Homo sapiens: one gene and its partners. The protein of the gene in region 1 interacts with the protein of each later gene in a pairwise test. Each region holds a gene or a part of one and is shown in the gene's direction. Other genes may lie near its edges.

Region 1 (5,008 bases):
CCTATGTCCTGAATGATATTGCCTAGGTTTTCTTCTAGGGTTTTTATGGTTTTAGGTTTAACATTTAAGTCTTTAATCCATCTTGAATTAATTTTTGTATAAGGTGTAAGGAAGGGATCCAGTTTCAGCTTTCTACATATGGCTAGCCAGTTTTCCCAGCACCATTTATTAAATAGGGATTCCTTTCCCTATTTCTTGTTTTTGTCAGGTTTGTCAAAGATCAGATGGTTGTAGATGTCTGGTATTATTTCTGAGGGCACTATTCTGTTCCATTGGTCTATATCTCTGTTTTGGTACCAGTACCATGCTGTTTTGGTTACTGTAGCCTTGTAGTATAGTTTGAAGTCAGGTAGCGTGACGCCTCCAACTTTGTTCTTTTGGCTTAGGATTGTCTTGGCAATGTGGGCTCTTTTTTGGTTCCATATGAACTTTAAAGTAGTTTTTTCCAATTCTGTGAAGAAAGTCATTGGTAGCTTGATGGGGATGGCACTGAATCTATAAATTACCTTGGGCAGTATGGCCATTTTCACAATATTGATTCTTCCTATCCATGAGCATGGAATGTTCTTCCATTTGTTTGTGTCCTCTTTTATTTCGTTGAGCAGTGGTTTGTAGTTCTCCTTGAAGAGGTCCTTCACATCCATTGTAAGTTGGATGCCTAGGTATTTTATTCTCTTTGAAGCAATTGTGAATGGGAGTTCACTCATGATTTGGCTTTCTGTTTGTCTGTTATTGGTGTATAGGAATGCTTGTGATTTTTGCACATTGATTTTCATAATTTCTGATGCTACTAAAAATGACATTTCAGATGGTGTTTCAAAATTTTAAAATGTCATACTTATTGCTAGTATAAATATCATTTTGTAAATTAACCTTGTATTCTACAATCTTGCCAAACCCACTTAGTTTTAGTAGTGTTTTTATATATCCTACTGGATTTTCAACATAGAACAATTATGCTTTCTGCAAATAAAGACAGTTTTATTTCCTCCTCGTCTATGTTTGCCTTTTATTTTTTATTAGCTTATTGCTCTGATTAGAACATCCAGCACAATATTGAGTAGAGGTGGTGAGAGGGAATATCCTTGCTTTGTTCCTGATCTCCTTTAGGGGAAGCATTCATCTTTCATATTATGTTTCATTTTCATTGCATGTTGTTACTGTTGTTGTGTGTAGATTTATCAGGTTGAAGAAGTTTCCTCCTATTCCTAGTTTGTGAAGAGTTTTTATCATTAGCTGACGTTGGATTTTGTCAAGCATTTATTTTGTATCTATTGAGATGATCATTTTTTTTGGTCTGTGAATGTGTTGAATTATGTTGATTTTGAAATTTTAAACCGTCGTTGCATTTGTGATATGAACCCTACTTGGTCATCATGTATTATTCTTTTAAAACATTGTTAGAATCAATTTGTTAAGAGTTTGTTAAGAATTTTTGCATCTATGTTCATTAGAGGTATTGGTTGGTTGATAGTTATGTCTTTTTCTTGTTGTGTCTTTATCTGGTTTTCGTGGTAGGTTCATACTGGCCCTGGATAATGAGTTGGGAAAGTTCTGTCTTTTTTAGTTTTCCAGAATAGTTTGCATAGAATTCTTATTTTTTCTTCATTAAATGTTTGGTAGAATTGACAACTGAACAAATCTAGTCCTGGAATTTTCTTTGGGGGATTTTTTAAAAATAATTTTAGACCCACAGAAGGGTTGCATAGATAGTATAGAGAGTTCCTATCTACGCTTCACTTAGCTTCTGTTAATAAATCTTATATAACCATGGTACATTTGTCTGTAGTGATGTTCACTCTTCCATTCCTGTTACTAATTTATGCCTTCTTTCTTTTTTTCCTAATCAGTCTGGCTAGAAGTTTATCAAGTTTTAATTTTCAAAGAACCAGCTTTTCATTTTGTGTTTTTCTATAAGTATTTTGAAGTCTCATGTTACTTGATAGATGAAACAGACATAGCTCCTGCTTTTTTTTTAACCTGTAGTGGGGATCATTTTAATTCAGTACTTTTCAGATTCTATTTCACTTTATAGTTTCCTCATTTAATGACTGCTTTTCTTTGTTTTTCGGTTGACCAGCTCTTGTAAGTTCTTGCCTAGTTTTTAGGAATGGCCTCTGGTTCAGAATATTAGTTTTCTCTATGAAATTCAATGTTTAACATCACTTTGGAATGGAATACTGTTCCAGTATTCTGAGGCTTAGTTGGAGCTTAAAAGACTTTAAGGAAAAAGCTTAGAGGAACTAAGGCAAGATGATATATTCACACTTATACATTATGTTAAATAAGTTTCAGTAAACAGTTTTTTTTTCCAAAATTTTTTTATCAATTGCTGTATTTTTTCACCTCCTTTAGAAATTGCCATGTCTAGAAATCTAAGAACCTGGTTTCTTTTGAGTTTTGTAGTTTATGTCTTATTTATTCTGTATCTCCGGAAGAATCATGATTACTTTAAATAACCAAATGTTTTCATTTCAAGAATATTAAAATGGATTGGTTAAGGTGTGATATACACTCAACTACAATAAGGAGATAATAATCTGAGTAATGTTAAAATTTTCTTAATATCTTGCATTTCCCTTTTGCTATGTTGATAAGTTTAAGATGAATAATCAAAAACATACTTAAAATTGTTAGTGTCTTCAATGAATTTTTCTCTATATCCATCTTTGTCAATCGGCAGTTCACTTTGTAGTTTCCTCATTTCATTATAGTCTAAATTCAAGATGAATTGCGCTTTTAGTTCTACAGTTGACCATAAAGATATTAATATTCACTAGCAGTTAAGTAGTTAGGATATTTCAGAGTTTAATGATCAGAACAAATTCTGTGTAAGTTTGTTATATAAGATAATATAAACCCTAATTTCTCTGAAAGTTTTAACATGCAGAAGAATTAGCTTAATTGTGGCTAGTAATAAGTGCCAATGAAGTAAAGACATGATTACCTATTATTCAGTTTCACCAGTATCAGTAAAATGTGGTCCCTTATGATAAATAACTGATCCATGTTTAGAGTTCAGCTTGATTGTTTGTATTTGTGTATACTTTCTATCTTTTTTTTGTTTTGTTTTAATCCTGTCACTACTAATATGTACTTGGTATGTACTTGTTTTCAGAAGGGGACCATCTGGACCAAGATTTGGACCTAGAAATGATAAAATTAAGCAGTAAGTTTTGTTCATTTGTTTAAATGATAATCATATTTCTGTGTAGACTAGAGATTGGCAAACTGCAGCCTGTGAGCCAAATCTGGCTGCAGCCTGTTTTTGTAAATAAAGTTTTATTGGAACATAGCCATGCCCATTTGTTTTCATATTATCGATAGGTACTTTCAAGCTACAATGGCAAAGTTGAGTAGTTGTGACAAAGCTGTGTCACATTTTATGGCCCACAAAATCTAAAATATCTGCTGAGTGTCTGGTCCTTTACAGAAAAAGTTGTTGACCCCTGATGAAGACTAAATATAACTGCTGGGTTATAAAAACCTAATTCATTTTATTTTCTCAGAATTATAGCTAAGGAAATGCAGGATTGTTGGTTTTTTTATGACTTGATTACCTTATGTCAAATCCATTTATTTAGCATAGTCTGAAGGTCTATTTTGGTTTTAAATCTGTAGCTTGATTCCTATTTTCAGAATGATAACAAAGGTAATATAATAGCTTTAATTTGTTGATGTACTGCATGTTTTTATCTACTTCCAGAATTTTTTCATATCTCTTATTTATCATAACCCATATATTGAACTAAGTTTTATGGCTAATTTGTGGTTTAAAACCTTTGAGGTATATATTATTTGGTGATAGATGAGTATAATATGCTGTAATCAATGTGTCTGATATCGGAAAGATATGAGTCCTGACTGGAGGGGAGAAGGAATAGACAGAGCAGTGAGTCACTTGAGGGAAGGCTCTGGAAACTGACCAAGCTGTAAAGACTAACTGTGGAATGTGAACTGCATGGCCCAGGTTCAAGACCTAAGGAGGGATAATAGTCACTACCCTAAGCCTGGGTATAGATGGCACATTGTGGGAAGGGTTCTATAATGAAGTATCTAGTTATTGGTGAGATACTTGGGCTTTACTCAGGTAGCTGTTGGTGTGAAGAAATATTTCCATACTTAGCCTAATTCTAACTAATGGATTTTGAGATATGGAACCAAAGAACCAATAAATGATTACAGGTACTAGACTGGGTGTATTAGTTTTCTATTGCCATGTAACAAATTACCATAAACTTAGCAGCTTAAAACAACACACATTTATCATCTCACAGTTTCCTTGGGTCAGGAGTTCAGGCACTTCTTAGGTGAGCCTTTTGCTCAGGTTTAACAAGATGGCAATCAGGGTATCACCAGGTATGACCAACTCAGGAAGTTATCAGAATTTATTTCCTGCAGCTATAGATGTCATGGTGCTTCTTTGAGGCCAGTAGAAGAGAGAATCTGTACTGTTTCAAGTCTCTTATTTGACTAAAGATACAACAAGCCACTTTTAGATGCAATTTATTACTTATATAGTAAAAGGAAGAGTAGCCAAAGTTAGTAGCTCTCAGGGTCATTGTCCTGCACACCAAAAATAATGATACAGCTGGGTGCAGTGTTTCACGCCTGTAATCCCAGCACTTTGGGATTCTCCTTCAAAGGAGGATTGTTTGAAGCCAAAAGTTTTGAGACCAGCCTGAGCAACAAAGTGAAACCCCCTTCTCTTAAAAAAAAAAGGGGAGGTCAATGGCTGCAGTACAAATTGTGGGATACTCTATTGCAAAGGAGCTATTTCTAGGCTGTGGTTTTTATAGTCTGCACATAGAGCCTGCAGAAAGTTTATACCGCATCAGAACCTGGGAGGTGATAAGAAACTGCCTTATGATAGTCTCATAAGGGAAACAGGGAGGTGGATGGAAGAAGACCTCATGAGCCACTCATTCTCTCATGTTCCAGGGAGATCACAAGCATTCTACCAGGACTCAAATTAGCTGTAGTTCAAGCCTGTGTGGCATATGTGGAT
Region 2 (5,008 bases), about 31 Mb from region 1:
TGCAGTCCAGGAGCTTGGTCCAGGGAACTTGGGTTTTCTTTTGGGGGAAGGGGGTGATTATGCAGGAACATTTCTTTTTCAGCTTTGGGGTCTGACATCCGCAGAACAGGACCAGGGGAAGCAAAAAGTGTTGGTGTTCGTAAACATTGACTTTTCACCTAGAGAAGCTTGCAACTGGCTTCAATTTAGGACTGAAGCTGGTTTCACCTGGGCAAAGCATGTACCTTGCTGAAGACCTCGCAGGGCCGAGGAGACCCTTTCTGGAGCTGGGTCTGGGCTCACCTGCCCTCACATTGCAGCTGGAGCTCGTTTTATTCCTTCTACCCTTAGGCAGCTTCCAGGCAGGTGTGACAGGGCTGTCTATGATACTGCAGAGACCTGGGGGTGGGCTTTGGAGGTGGCTGGAGAAGCCTCTTCCTTGCCCTTCTCAAGCCCTGGGGACCAGGCTACCCCAGTGTTCCCCAGCCCCTAGGCAAGCCTGACCTCTAGTCATTCTTTCTGCCTCCATCTGAACATTATCATATCTCAATGGGGTCTCCTTTTTCTTCCCCGCCAGGCCTGTGCCGCCCTCTCAGGGGAGAGTAGATAGAGGGGCAGTGAGTGCACTGGAAGCAGGGGGACAGAAGGCAGTGAGGACAGAGTGGGAGGAGGTTGGGCTTCATTTGCCTGGAAGAATGACCATCATTCCCTTCCCTGGACAGAAGCATCCTCGTGGAGGACTTAAGGCTGCAGATGAGTAGAAACACTACTTCACTTGGCTTTGGGATTTGCTCTGTGGACTTCCCCAGTCTAGGCAGGTCCTAGCTGAAGCCAGAGTATCCCCACCACTGAAGGTCCAGGGTGGTGGGGATACTCTTTAAGAACTGGAACAGCAAGTCAGAGGGAGTAATGGGGGGGCAGGGTCACTCAGTGCAGTGGTTAAATATGAAGCACCAAAGAATGGAGGCTAGGAGATAGACAGGCCTGGGTTCAAATCCCAGGGCTGCTAAGTACAAAGTCTGACATTTGCAACAAGTATTTTATTAGTGAGTACCTACCATGTGCCACTATTGTAGTCTCTCTGGGTGGGGAGGTGAGCACAGCCGCAGGCCCTACACATGTTACTGAGCCACTCAGCATCCCTTCTGCATTCGTTCCACTATTGCATTTTGAGAATCTGTGCTAGGCAATGGAGATTCAGGTGGGAACAAAACAGACCTGTTTCCTGCCCTCGTGGCATTTACAATCTAGTGAATACCACACAATTAGATAATTACATAAAGAATTCATCATGACTGTGCCAAGAGTTATGAAGGTATGTAGGAAGCTTCGAGAGCATGTAACAGGATGATCTGACAATGTCTGCACAGTTTTCTCTAAAGAACAGAGGTAATAATGCTTAACTCTCAGGGTAGTATTGTAGAACTGATAACTATTCGTGTTATTTTAGAAGTAGCCCCTGGACCACCAGACAGATGCAGTTCTAAATTCCCTACGTGAATAATCCATCCATAGGCAACAAGTTGATTCTTCATCTTCCACTCAGTCAGAGAAGCCAGGCCAGAGAAGCTGGGATTCAGTTATGGCTTCTCCTGGACTCCAGAAGCCTGTGATAAATAATATAGTTTCATTGGAGAAACATCAAGTCAGAGATTTTTTTCTAAGTGGCAGTATAGTGACTACAGCCAGATTGCCAGGGTTCATCCTGGTTCTGCCACTTGCTGTGATTTTGGGCGAGTCAATCACACTCTGTTTTTTAGTCTTGCCATCTGTAGAATGGAGCTAAAATTTGTAACTATGACGTAGATTGTTCTTGGTGAGGATGAAATGGGTTAATTCCTGTAAAGCGTGTAGAACAGTGCCTGGCGCGGGAGGAGTAAGTGCTTTTCATCCTTGGGTGGCCTGCGTGCTCCTTTTCCTGCCCACACACACAACACTGTCTTGGGTTCTCCAGCTGCAGGGAGCACTGTCCACCTTTGATATTCTTAAAACTCAAGGGAAGGAGTTGCCCTCACCGTCTTGGTGGTCAGTCCTGCATTTCATCCCCCTCACTCGAAGACGGTTTTTATGCCTAATGAGTCTTTTCTTGCCAAAGCTTGATTTCTGGGAAGGATTTGTCCCAGCAATCCTTCATTTTCATCTCTGGAACTGACAGTTCAAGGAAGTAGCCAGAGTGATGGGTAAATTTGGATCCAGGCCCAGAGGGACCTGAGAGTCACTGTGAGCCTGGAGGGCAGGGGAACACCTAGCTGCCAGCCCCCTCCCCTAGAGAGGCTGGGTCTAAAATTAAACATCCAGAAGGACTCCCCAGGCCAGGTGCAGTGGCTCACACCTGTAATCCCAGCGCTTTGGGAGGCTGAGGTAGAAGGATCGCTTGAGCCCAGGAATTCCAGAGCAGGCTGGGCAACATATGGAGACCCTGTCTCTACAAAAAATTTAAAAATTAGCTGGGCATGGTGGCACACCAGGTTAAGCAGGAGGATCGCCTGAGCCCAGGAGGTCGAGACTGCAGTGAGCTATGGTCATGCCACTTCACTTCAGCCTGGAAAACAGTGAGATCCGGTCTCAAAAAAAAAAAAAGGACTCCCAAAATCCAAGATGAGCAGTAGATATTGTAGAAGCTTCCTCCCTGGATCATTTTCTGATGAGGATAAAGTCCCTGCTGGCTGAGTGCCAGGGAGGAGGTTAGATTCTGAAAGCCCCTCACACTTAGGGAAGTAGGATGTGAGTAGCAGGGTCCATTAAAATGGCCAAGCAGCCTCCAAATCTGAAAGAAAGGGGGGTTACCTGCTGCTGTAAAGTCAGGAGAGGCCCTTCCTTGGTCACTTTAGCCGGGGACCTCAGGATTTCAGCTTTTGCTGTCAGTAACACTAAGCATCAGGCATAAGAAAGGGCAAAGTCAGTGTGGGTCCCGCACAACAGGGAACCTCAGGGCTCCTCCCTGCGCCTCCTGCTCCCCTGCTCGGGGATAGAGCGGCTCACAAGGGCGGTCAAGCTCTCATCACTGCAGTCCTCGGCTACGCCATCGCTGTCCCCACTTTACAATGAACGGGCAAAGGCCCAGAGAAGTTGTGTGGTTCAAAATCCCCAGAGAAGTTGTGTGGTTGTTCAAAATCCCCAGATCATAGGCACTTTGCAGGGGGCCTTCCAGGCCACAGCAGCTGAGTGGTCAGAACCCTTCCTCCTCTCCTCGCCGCTTCTCACCAGCTCTACCTATGGCAAATGGAGCCCGAGAATACAGGTGCGGGTCCTTGGGATGAGGCCACTAACGCGTTGAGTAGAAGCAGGAGGCTGGGTGATTTAAATCAGGCAGCAGCCTTTACAAAAATTAGGCAGTGATTCCTTGGAGGAATTGAATCAGCTCTCCCTCCCTGATGTTGGGTTTCCTTGGGCTCTCCATAAGGGCTCTGGCACCTCCTTCAGGAACACCTGCTCTGAAGCAAGGAGGGAGGCCCCAGGGTGGGCAGTCTTGAGTGCATGATGGGACACCCCGCTGAATCCAGAGCTGCTCCAGCCTCAGCAGCCCTATCTGTGATGGCATGCTGATGTCATCAGCACCAAAAGCCCTTGCAGGTTTCAACTCGGCAATTAAACGGCTCCTCTGAAGCCCAGCAGCCGTGTGTGTGTGCATATGTGTGTATTCAGGGTCCTAGGGGTGGGCTGGGGAGGAGGGCCCCTTGCAAAGGCAGGGAGAATGGGAGTTAGTGGGTGTGTGACTGCTTCTCTCCTTCGGAGACTCCAGACCTGAGAAGTCAGATCCCTATGGGACTCACAGCCCAAAAGTCAACCCTTGCGTGCAGGTGTAGCCAGAGTCTAAACTCAGCCTGAGCCAGAGCACCCCATTCCTTCCTTACTTCCTACTTTCCTCCCGCCTTTTCCTCCACGTTCCACTCCAATGCACTAAGCACCTACTCTGTAAAAGGCACCTGGGATGTAAAGGAGAACTCAAAATAACCGTGTCTCCTCTATCAGCCTGGGCGCTCCCCAAGGCCAGGGCATGTTGTTTCTCCTCCTCTCCTGGGTCCCCCTAGCCCCCAAAGTGGAGTTCTGAAGCTGGGAGCATTGATGGTGGCTGGTGCAGAGTGACAGGGCTCCCAGATGCTCTCCAACCCCAGGATAGTCGCCTGTCAACACAAGGCTTTCCTCAATCACAAAGCTTGCTTCACTTCCTCCCATCCCCTGCAGAGAAACTAGAAGCCCAAGGGCCTCATCACTGGACAGTCTGGGACCAGGGGAGGACAGCAGCTGGGTGGGGAGTCAGGAAAGCTCCCCCGAGGCATTTGTCAGGTGCCTCTCAGTAAGGCAGGGAGTCCTCAGACCATGGAGAACTCTGGCAGGACTTGCCATAATTGGGTTGATACAGTGGCTCTGGAATTTAGTAATTAGGAAATATTGCAATTAGAGACGGAATTTACCCATTACTATTCCATGCATCTTAATACAGGGTGTAAGTGGTTGTAACTGTGAGCTTGGCACTAGGCATATGGGAAAATAGAAGTGAATGGAGAAATGGGATGAAGGAAGGAGGGGATGGGAGGAGCTTAACCCTTTCCATACCCGAGTAGACTGAAGGAGCAGCCTGGGGGTGATGCAGGGTTAGGGCGAGCCCAGCAGCCCACCGCATTTGTAAGAGGTGACCGAGGCAAAAATCACAGGCTCCCTCCGGACCTTCTGCTTCTTTAGCTCAGGTAGGATCAGATGCAGGGCTTGGCAGGGGTTAGGAGAGTGGTGATGGAGGCCAAGAGGGAGAGGCTGCAGGGGAGAAGGGCTCTTCTCCCAGTTTCCTGCTCAGCTGTGGAGAAACAGAAAAGAGTTGTAACCACCTGCAGTAGTGTGCATGTGAGAGACAGGAGAGGGTACCTTGTACCTTCATCTCTCCCTCCCCACTTGTTCCTTCCCCCGCCCTTCTTTTTACTCCCTTCCTCACTCCTACTCTTAGCTCCATTTTCCTCTGAAGTCAAATGAGGCATTTGTGGTATTGCAGGGCTGAGCTGGGTAGGGCCATGTGTATGGGCGGCGGAGGGAGGGG
Region 3 (4,179 bases), on another chromosome or scaffold:
AATCCCAGCACTTTGGGAGCCCGAGACAGGCGGATCACGAGGTCAGGAGATCAAGACCGTCCTGGCTAACACGGTGAAACCCCGTCTCTACTAAAAATACAAAAAATTACCGGGCATGGTGGCGGGCACCTGTAATCCCAGCTACTTGGGAGGCTGAGGCAGGAGAATCGCTTGAACCTGGGAGGCAGAGGTTGCAGTGAGCTGAGATCGCGCCACTGCACTCCAGCCTGAGCAACAGAGCGAGACTCCGTCTCAAGAAAAAAAAAAAATCATTTTTCCTGGACCGGGTCTGTTTCTGAGCTCCAGCCTGTTCCAGTAGTCCATATGTGTTTCCTTACGCGTGGCTTCAGTGTCTTCAATTACTGTAGCTTTGTAAGTCTTGAAATCACATGGCGTAAGTTCTCCAGCTTTGTTTGTTTTTCAGAATTGCTTTGGCTAATCTTCACAATTGCTTTGCATTTCCATATAAATTTAGATTCAGTTTGTCAATTTCTATAACAAAACTCTCCTAGGATTTTGACTGATATTGCTTTAAATCTTTGCATCAATTTAGGGAGAACATGTTAACTATTTTGAGTCTTCTGGTTCAGGAACATGGTATATGTCTCCATTTATTTAGGTCTCCATTAATTTTCTCAGCAATGCTTTGCAATTCTTACTATATAGGTCTTGCAAATATTTTGTTAAATTCATCCATATGTATTATATTTTTATGCTATTGTAAATGATATATTTTAATTTCAATCCTCAATTTGTCATTGCTTGTATATAGAAATACAATATAATTTTTGTATATTAATCTTTTATTCTATGACGTTGCTAAACTCACCTGTTAATTCTAATAAACTTTAGGATTTTCTACATAATGTGATCACATTATCTGTGAATAATAACAATGTTACTTTTTTTTTTTTTTAAGATGGAGTCTTGCTGTGTCACCCAGGCTGGAGTGCAGTGGCATGATCTCAGCTCACTGCAACCTCTGCCTCCCGGGTTCAAGCAATTCTCCTGCCTCAGTCTCCCCAGTAGCTGGGATTACAGGCACCCACCACCGTGCCCAGCTAATTTTTGTATTTTTAGTAGAGACGGGGTTTCACCATGTTGGCCAGGCTGGTCTTGAACTCCTGACCTCGTGATCCGCCTGCCTCAGCCTCCCAAAGTGCTGGGATTACAGGCCTGAGCCACCATGCCTGGCCGACAATATTACTTCTTTCTTTCCTATCTGTGTGGCTTTTGCTTCCTTTTATTTTCGTATTGCACTGGCCAGGACCAGTACAACGTTGAATAGAAGTGGAGACAATGGACATCATGAAGACACCTTTAAACATTTCTTTTTGTCAGAAATAATCACTGGCTGTAATAGAGGCATAAACAAAATATGATGGAATGCAAACTATGTATGTGTGAACAGGGGTTAGCAGAAAAGGAAACAATTAAATCCTAGTCACTGGGGAAGATTCCTAAGGAGCAGAGTTTTTAAGCAGGTTGCTTGGCTCTCATTGGTCTGACCCTGGAAGGTGGCGGTTTCTGTAGTCTGTTTCCCTCACCCATGATATGCTGCTGGAGTTCCCTTCCCCATCCCCCCACAGCAGAGCTGCTGCGACTCCCTTTCTATCTGTTCCAGGATGGTGTCCTCTCCCTGCACGCAGGCAAGCTCACGGACTTGCTCCCGTATCCTGGGACTGAGCCTTGGGACTGCAGCCCTGTTTGCTGCTGGGGCCAACGTGGCACTCCTCCTTCCTAACTGGGATGTCACCTACCTGTTGAGGGGCCTCCTTGGCAGGCATGCCATGCTGGGAACTGGGCTCTGGGGAGGAGGCCTCATGGTAAGTGTCCGGGGTTCCCTGAACGTGAACTCTCAAAGAGACCCCGGCGGGGAGCAGGAAGGTGGCATGGGAAGAGTGTTTTGATTCCTTGCAGAAAAGTTTATTCTAACAAGCTGATCTTGGGTCTGTAGAAGCTCTAAGAGACAGGAAGCCTAGCTTGGGACCAGGCAGGTCGGGTGTGAAAGTTAACATCCACAGCGTTAGATCAGGCTCGTCATACAAATGTGGGTCCCCAGAGTCAGAGTCAACAGGACTGCGTTCATGTGAGCTGCCAGCCACTCTAACAGCTGTGGGCAGCACCTAGAAACAGCCGGCAAAGTCGATTTCCCCATCTCAACATTCTTCTCTCTCCTGCAGGTACTCACTGCAGCTATCCTCATCTCCTTGATGGGCTGGAGATACGGCTGCTTCAGTAAGAGTGGGCTCTGTCGAAGCGTAAGCACCAGATTCCACTCTTCTAACACCCAGAATGTCTCCACCTCTATTACTCTAGAGGCAGGGCGGTAAAGAGGCAATTTTGGTCTTGGGGCCTGAAGTCAGGTCCTCACTGTGACCCTCAGTAACGCTAAGTTCTTGGGCAAGTTGCTTCATCTTTCCAGTTTCAGGCTTTCATCTGTAAAATGGGAGCTGATCAAGTCAAGGGAGTAGTGCTTAGTGAAGCCCAGACGTCTGTACCAGTGTGAGGACCCAGACGTCTGTACCAGTGTGAGAAACTGTTACTCTCTTAGGGTGTTGGACAATATGGACATGAGTTATGACACTGTAATCATGTGTCATTGATGGAAATTTTCCTAGTTATTTTAACTAATATTTTCTTAGAACAGGAAAGTTTTCCAGAGATCATCTAATCACTAGATTCTAATCTAACCCCTCCATTTTACAGATAAACTGAGGCCCAGAATAAATTTCTACCTTATTAATTACAGCAGCAACTGTATAAACTTGAAAGATCTCAGTATATGTGTGTGTAACAAACACACACACACACACACACACACACTCGTTCTCAGACATGAATCTGTGGCCTTATGGTAACTCCACAGCCTGCTCTGATATCTGCAGCCCACATGTTGGGAAGCCCACTGACTCAGTTACATGTTAAAAAATCAAATATAGGCCAGGCGCGGTGGCTCACGCCTGTAATCCCAGCACTTTGGGAGGCCAAGATGGGCGGATCACCTGAGGTCAGGAGTTTGAGACCAGCCTGGCCAACATGGTGAAACCCCGTCTCTACCAAAAATACAAAAATTAGCTGGGCGTGGTGGTGGGCGCCTGTAATCCCAGCAACTCAGGAGGCTGAGGCAGGAAAATCTCTTGAACCCGGGAGGCGGAGCTTGCAGTGAGCCGAGATGGCGCCACTGCACTCCAGCCTGGGCGACAGAGCGAGACTCCGTTTCAAAATAAATAAATAAATAAGTACATAGATAAATAAATAAACACTTGCACATTTCATTCACTGTCTGTTCTCATTCTGGTTTTCCCCGTGGCACGTAGTTCTGACACTTGAATGTGCATGAGAATCACCTGGAGGGCTTTTGCCGGAACACGGATTGCTGGGCTCCCTCCCCAGAGTTTCTGATTCAGGATGGCGGGGAAGTTTTGCATTTCTAACAGGTTCTCAGGTGATGTGATGCGGCTGGGCAGGGACCCCATTTTGGGAACCACTGCCCTAGGCTTACTGATTCATCTTGACTCCTTTAACTCAGAGTCAAAACTTACTATGCACCTTTGTCTGATCCCTCCCCAACTCCAAACCAGCTTGACCTCAGTGGGAGAATGACTCCATGACTCTGCAGAAAAACGCTATGTAGGTGTTATTCACATTTTTAAAATAGGCATTTTTGGGGGAGGGAGAAAAAAATCTAGAACCCTAAGAAAGAATCCAATATGGGCCGGGCACGGTGGCTCATGCCTGTAATCCCAGCACTTTGGGAGGCTGAAGCAGGTGGATCACAAGGTCAGGAGATTGAGACCGGCATGACCAACACAGTGAAACCCCATTTCTACTAAAAATACAAAAATTAGCTGGGTGTGGTGGCGCATGCTTGTAGTCCCAGCTACTTGGGAGGCTGAGGCAGGAGAATCGCTTGAACTCAGAGGCAGAGGTTGCAGTGAGCTGAGATCGTGCCACTGCACTCCAGCCTGGGCGACAGAGTGAGACTCTGTCTCAAAAAGAAAGAGAGAGAGAGAAAGAAGGAAGGAAGGGAAGGAAGGAAGGAACGAGAAAGAAGCCAATGTAGAAGCAGGCTAGAAACCTGTCAAGGAAGGAAACCCAGTTATTTTCTGGGAGGGCAGTGGGAGCACAGACTGATGGCCAAGAAAGCTCTCAGCTGGAGAAACACAGCGACAGAAG
Region 4 (5,008 bases), on another chromosome or scaffold:
AGGCGGAGATTGCAGTGAGCCGAGATCACACCACTTCACTCCAGCCTGGGTGACAGAGCGAGACTCTGTCTCAAAAACAAAAAAAGAAGACTCTTTTTTTTTTCTTTTTTTCTTTTTTTTTTTTTTGAGACAGAGTCTTGCTCTGTCGCCCAGGCTGGAGTGAAGTGGCGTGATCTCGGCTCACCGCAAGCTCCGCCTACCGGCTTCACGCTGTTCTATTCTCCTCCCTCAGCCTTCTGAGTAGCTGGGACTACAGGCGCCCACCACCATACCCGGCTAATTTTTTGTATTTTTAGTAGAGACGGGGTTTCACTGTGTTAGCCAGGATGTTCTTAATCTCCTGACCTGGTGATCCACCTGCCTCGGCCTCCCAAAGGGCTGGGATTACAGGCGTGAGCCACTGTGCCCAGCCCCCTTTTTTTTTTTTTTTGAGATGTAGTCTTGCTCTGTCACCCAGACTGGAGTGCAGTGGCGCAATCTCGGCTCACTGCAAGCTCTGCCTCCCGGGTTCACGCCATTCTCCTGCCTCAGCCTCCCAAGTAGCTGGGACTACAGCTGCCCGCCACCACGCCCAGCTAATTTTTTGTATTTTTAGTAGACACGGGGTTTCACCGTGTTAACCAGGATGGTCTCGACCTCCTGACCTTGTGATCCGCCCGCCTCAGCTTCCCAAAGCGCTGGGATTACAGGCGTGAGTCACTGCACCCGGCCTTTTTGACTCATTTTTAACAAGCTACCTTTTATGGCAAATTATTAGGATGGCTCTTAGCTTTGAAGTTGCAGTTTACTGCTGAAAACATCACTCAGGGAACCTAGGCTGTGACTTGCAGGCTTTGCTTCTGTCCTACAACATTAGCTTTTCCAAATTACTCCAAGCTCGCCTTGTTCATCCTCCAGGACTCCTTTTCTCTCCAGAGACTGAGGTTTAGAAAGTGAGAACCAGACAAGGAAGAAACTTCTTTAGAACCAGAGGTTCATTTGTATGGAGCTGTAGATGTGGAAGCCTCCAGATTATAGACTGAGCTGCCAGGTGGCTGGGGAGTGTGTGTGCAACTGGAACACTCCTCTGACGCATCGTGGGTTCCGTTCCCCGACTCACTTCTCATTGCCTGGAAAGCATAGGAAAATTTCAGTTCCTGCCCTTGATAGGCAGTCCAGCAAAACTTACATATGACTTTGCTGCCTGAAATTCTTTCTGGAACAGGGCAAGGTATAAATAAATAAATAACATATCACTTTTTGGAATTTAAAGTGCTGTGTCCTTTGATAGCAACAGCAAAGCAAGAGAGGTTGACTGGACAGCCACTCCACACCTCGATGGCCGTTCCCAGTTCCCCTCTGTTGACTGCAGACAGGGTCAGTACCTCCTTCATCAGGAAAATGGAGACATCCAGTGTGAGCTCCTCAGAGCCCCTCCACCACTGCACAGTGACATTTACCTCTTAGTCTCCTGTGTCACTGGATGAGGCGTCCTTGCTGCTGGGCTTACCCTTCCACCTCTGCCCTTGTTCCCTTTCCTTCCTGTCTCCTGTCAGACTGCCTCATCGTTTATTGCCTTTCCTGTTTTCTGTGATTACTCCTTTTTATAGGCTCCTCTCTCTCAGCCTGTAAATATATGTGAGCCCCTCACATCCTAACATGAGTCTCCCTTGATCCTATGTCTTCTAAGTGTTTGCTGATCTTCCTGAGGTTTCTGTTCGGCACTGTTGCTGCTTTCTCTGTGCAACTCTACTCCTTTGGCCTCCATGGTGCCATTACTTTCCAGGTTCTTCTCCTCCCTCCCTCACTACCCTTTCCTCTCTCTCTCTCCCTCTCTCCCTCTCTCTCTCTCCCCTTTGTGGGTTTCTTAGTCTTCTACCCCACTCTAATTGTAGGTGATTCCTAGGGATCTACTCTTTTTTTTTTTTGAGAGTCTCGCTCTTTCGCCCAGGCTGGAGTGCAGTGGCACTATATCGGCTCAGTGCAAGCTCCACCTCCCGGGTTCACGCCATTCTCCTGCCTCAGCCTCCCGAGTAGCTGGGACTGCAGGCGCCTGCCACCACGCCCGGCTAATTTTTTGTATTTTTAGTAGAGACCAGGTTTCAACGTGTTAGCCAGGATTTCAACGTGTTAGCCAGGATGGTCTCGATCTTCTGACCTCATGATCTGCCCACCTCGGCCTCCCAAAGTGCTGGGATTACAGGCATGAGCCACTGTGCCCGGCTGGGATCTACTCTTATCCTGCAGTTCTTTTCGTTCTCTCTACTTACAGGGCTTCAAACATTACCTGAATGCTGATGACTCCCAAACCTACCTCTGGTTTATTCCTTTCTTCTGAGCTTCAGATTCTCCAGCTTCAGCTACCTGAGGGACATCTCTGCCTATATGTCTCTTAGCTGCCTCAAGTTTAATGTGTTCAAATCCAAACCCATCATCTTCCTTAGCCCTCTTTGTCTGCTGTTTTCTCTTGAGTAATCAGTAGCACCATTATCTACTCAGTAATCTTAGCTGGAAACCTGGGAGTCATCTTTATGACTGCTGCCTCTCTTTCACTCACCACATCGAATTAGTCTATATCTTTGCCTTTTTTAATTTTTCTACACATTTCCTGACTCTCCCTTTGTCTCCATCAAGACTTTAAGTCCTTTAAGATCTTGTAGTCCAGCCAGACACAGAACATGCTCTAGTTAGTGCTCAGTAAGCGTTTAATGAATAGGAGGGAAGGATCACCTAATTCTTCTCTTTTTTAAAAAGGTGGGCCGGGCGCGGTGGTTCACGCCTGTAATCCCAGCACTTTGGGAGGCCGAGCCTGGCGGGTCACCAGGTCAGGAGATCGAGACCATCCTGGCTAACACGGTGAAACCCTGTCTCTACTAAAAATACAAAAAATTAGCTGGGCGTGGTGGCAGGCACCTGTAGTCCTAGCTACTCCGGAGGCTGAGGCAGGAAAATGGCATGAACCCGGGAGGCGGAGCTTGCAGTGCGCCGAGATAGCACCACTGCACTCCGTCCTGGGTGAAAGAGCGAGATTCCGTCTCAAAAAAAAAAAAAAGGTGGGCCGGGCACAGTGGCTCACGCCTGTAATCCTGTAATCCCAGCACTTTGGGAGGCTGAGGCGGGTGGATCACAAGGTCAGGAGTTCGAGATCAGCCTGACCAATATGGAGAAACCCTGTGTCTACTAAAAATACAAAATTAGCTGGGCATGGTGGTGCATGCCTGTAATCCCAGCTACTCAGGAGGCTGAGGCAGGAGGATCTCTTGAACCCAGGAGGCAGAAGTTGCGGTGATCTGAGATCACGCCATTGCACTCCAGTCTGGGCAAAAAGAGCAAAACTCCATCTCAAAAAAAAAAAAAAAAAAAAAGGTGGATGTCAGCTGGGCCCAGTGGCTCACACTTGTAGTCCCAGCACTTTAGGCGGCTGAGGTGGGTGAATCATAGGAGGTCAGGAGTTCAAGACCAGCCTGGCCAATGTGGTGAAACCCCATCTCTACTAAAATACAAATATTAGCCAGATGTGGTGGCAGGCGCCTGTAATCCCAGCTACTCGGGAGGCTGAGGCAGGAAAATCACTTCAACCCAGGAGCGGAGGTTGCAGTAAGCCAAGATCGTGCCATTGTACTCCAGCCTGGGTGACAGAGTGAGACTTCATCTCAAAAAAAAAAAAAAAAGTGGATGTCGCCGGGTGTGGTGGCTCACACCTGTAATCCCAGCATTTTGAGAGGATGAGGCAGACAGATCACTTGAGGTCAGGAGTTTGAGATCAGGCTGGCCAACATGGTGAAACCCCGTGTCTACTAAAAATACAAAAATTAGCCGGGCGTGGTGGCACACACCTGTAGTCCCAGCTACTTGGGAGGCTGAGGTGGAAGAATCACTTGAACCCGGAAGGCAGAGGTTGCAGTGAGGTGACATCGAACCACTGCACTCTAGCCTGGGTGACAGAGTGAGACTCCAGCTCAAAAAAAAAAAAAAAAAAAAAGATGGATGTCCATGAGTGGTTAGAATTAGAAGAAATCTTAAATAAGGACATGATGTTGCTGTGGCATGGGGAGGCCACGTCAGTCTAGGGTTGGAAGCTAACTAACTTTCCTCCTACCTAGAGAGGTATGGAGAGAGGCTAGATGCTAGATGGGGCATTCAGCCAGTGGGGTCCACATGGTTGGCTTTTTTTTTTTTTGATAAGAGAACTGAATGACAGGATATTTCTGAAACTTTTGTGACATTTCTTGAAGTGATTAGGAACTTGACAGGGTATTTCTCAACTGGAGATGCTGTATTAATTAAAACATTGACTTCAGGACTTCAGGTAATGGAAAGTAATTCAGATCTGCTTTGCTTTTTTTTTTTTTTTTTTTTTTTTTTTAGGGAGGAGATGGAGTCTTGCTTTGTCACCCAGGCTGGAGTGCAGTGGCACAATCTCGGCTCACTGTAACCTGCGCTTCCTGGGTTCAAACGATTCTCCTGCCTCAGCCTCCCCGAGTAGCTGGGATTACAGGCACCCGCCACCACACCTGGCTAATTTTTGCATTTTTAGTAGAGACGAGGTATCACCATGTTGGTCAGGCTGGTCTCGAACTCCTGACCACAAGTGATCTGCCTGCCTTGGCCTCCCAAAGTGCTGGCCCAGATCTGCTTAAGCAAAAAAAAAAAAGCATTTATTGGAAAGATAAAGAAATATCCTACAGAACCCAGTGGCAGGAATGAGGTGAGGTCTCAGGAGCTAGAAACTTTAGTTCTTTTTTCCTCTCTCATCTCATCTGTCCTCTCTACATCTCCATTCTTATTTTATAGATTGCCGTTCTTTGGTCTTCATGGCAGGTACGCAGCCCCCACTGCTTGTGAGTGTATGTGACACAGGGCCAGCTACCTCAAGGAAGTGACTCTTAGTTGACTGACTGGCTCAGCTTGACTGCCTCTAATCTAACTGTAGCTAGTGTGGGGGTGGAGCACACAAAATCTTTGGTACAAATATAGCTGTTACGAATCCACTTCTGTGTCTCTGAGGACGGAAGAAGGCAAGTCCTGA

Evidence for each region.
Region 2: the proteins of VAMP4 (region 1) and SYT2 interact in binary tests that used the Homo sapiens proteins (3 or more experiments, as listed by UniProt).
Region 3: the proteins of VAMP4 (region 1) and TM4SF19 interact in binary tests that used the Homo sapiens proteins (3 or more experiments, as listed by UniProt).
Region 4: the proteins of VAMP4 (region 1) and GLE1 interact in binary tests that used the Homo sapiens proteins (3 or more experiments, as listed by UniProt).

The regions. Positions count from the first base shown.
Region 1 is NC_000001.11:171,717,332-171,722,339, reverse strand, and holds part of VAMP4 (vesicle-associated membrane protein 4), read left to right. Parts: intron 1-3,118; coding exon 3,119-3,169; intron 3,170-5,008. UniProt on the Homo sapiens protein: Involved in the pathway that functions to remove an inhibitor (probably synaptotagmin-4) of calcium-triggered exocytosis during the maturation of secretory granules.
Region 2 is NC_000001.11:202,703,274-202,708,281, reverse strand, and holds part of SYT2 (synaptotagmin-2), read left to right. Parts: intron 1-5,008. UniProt on the Homo sapiens protein: Exhibits calcium-dependent phospholipid and inositol polyphosphate binding properties. May have a regulatory role in the membrane interactions during trafficking of synaptic vesicles at the active zone of the synapse.
Region 3 is NC_000003.12:196,325,037-196,329,215, reverse strand, and holds part of TM4SF19 (transmembrane 4 L6 family member 19), read left to right. Parts: intron 1-1,624; 5' UTR 1,625-1,625; coding exon 1,626-1,826; intron 1,827-2,183; coding exon 2,184-2,261; intron 2,262-3,645; exon of another isoform or gene 3,646-4,179. UniProt on the Homo sapiens protein: Negatively regulates vacuolar (H+)-ATPase (V-ATPase) activity by interacting with members of V-ATPase V0 complex and hence inhibiting V1-V0 complex assembly. Required for multinucleation during osteoclast differentiation.
Region 4 is NC_000009.12:128,527,892-128,532,899, forward strand, and holds part of GLE1 (mRNA export factor GLE1), read left to right. Parts: intron 1-719; exon of another isoform or gene 720-1,109; intron 1,110-4,773; coding exon of another isoform or gene 4,774-4,800; intron 4,801-5,008. UniProt on the Homo sapiens protein: Required for the export of mRNAs containing poly(A) tails from the nucleus into the cytoplasm. May be involved in the terminal step of the mRNA transport through the nuclear pore complex (NPC).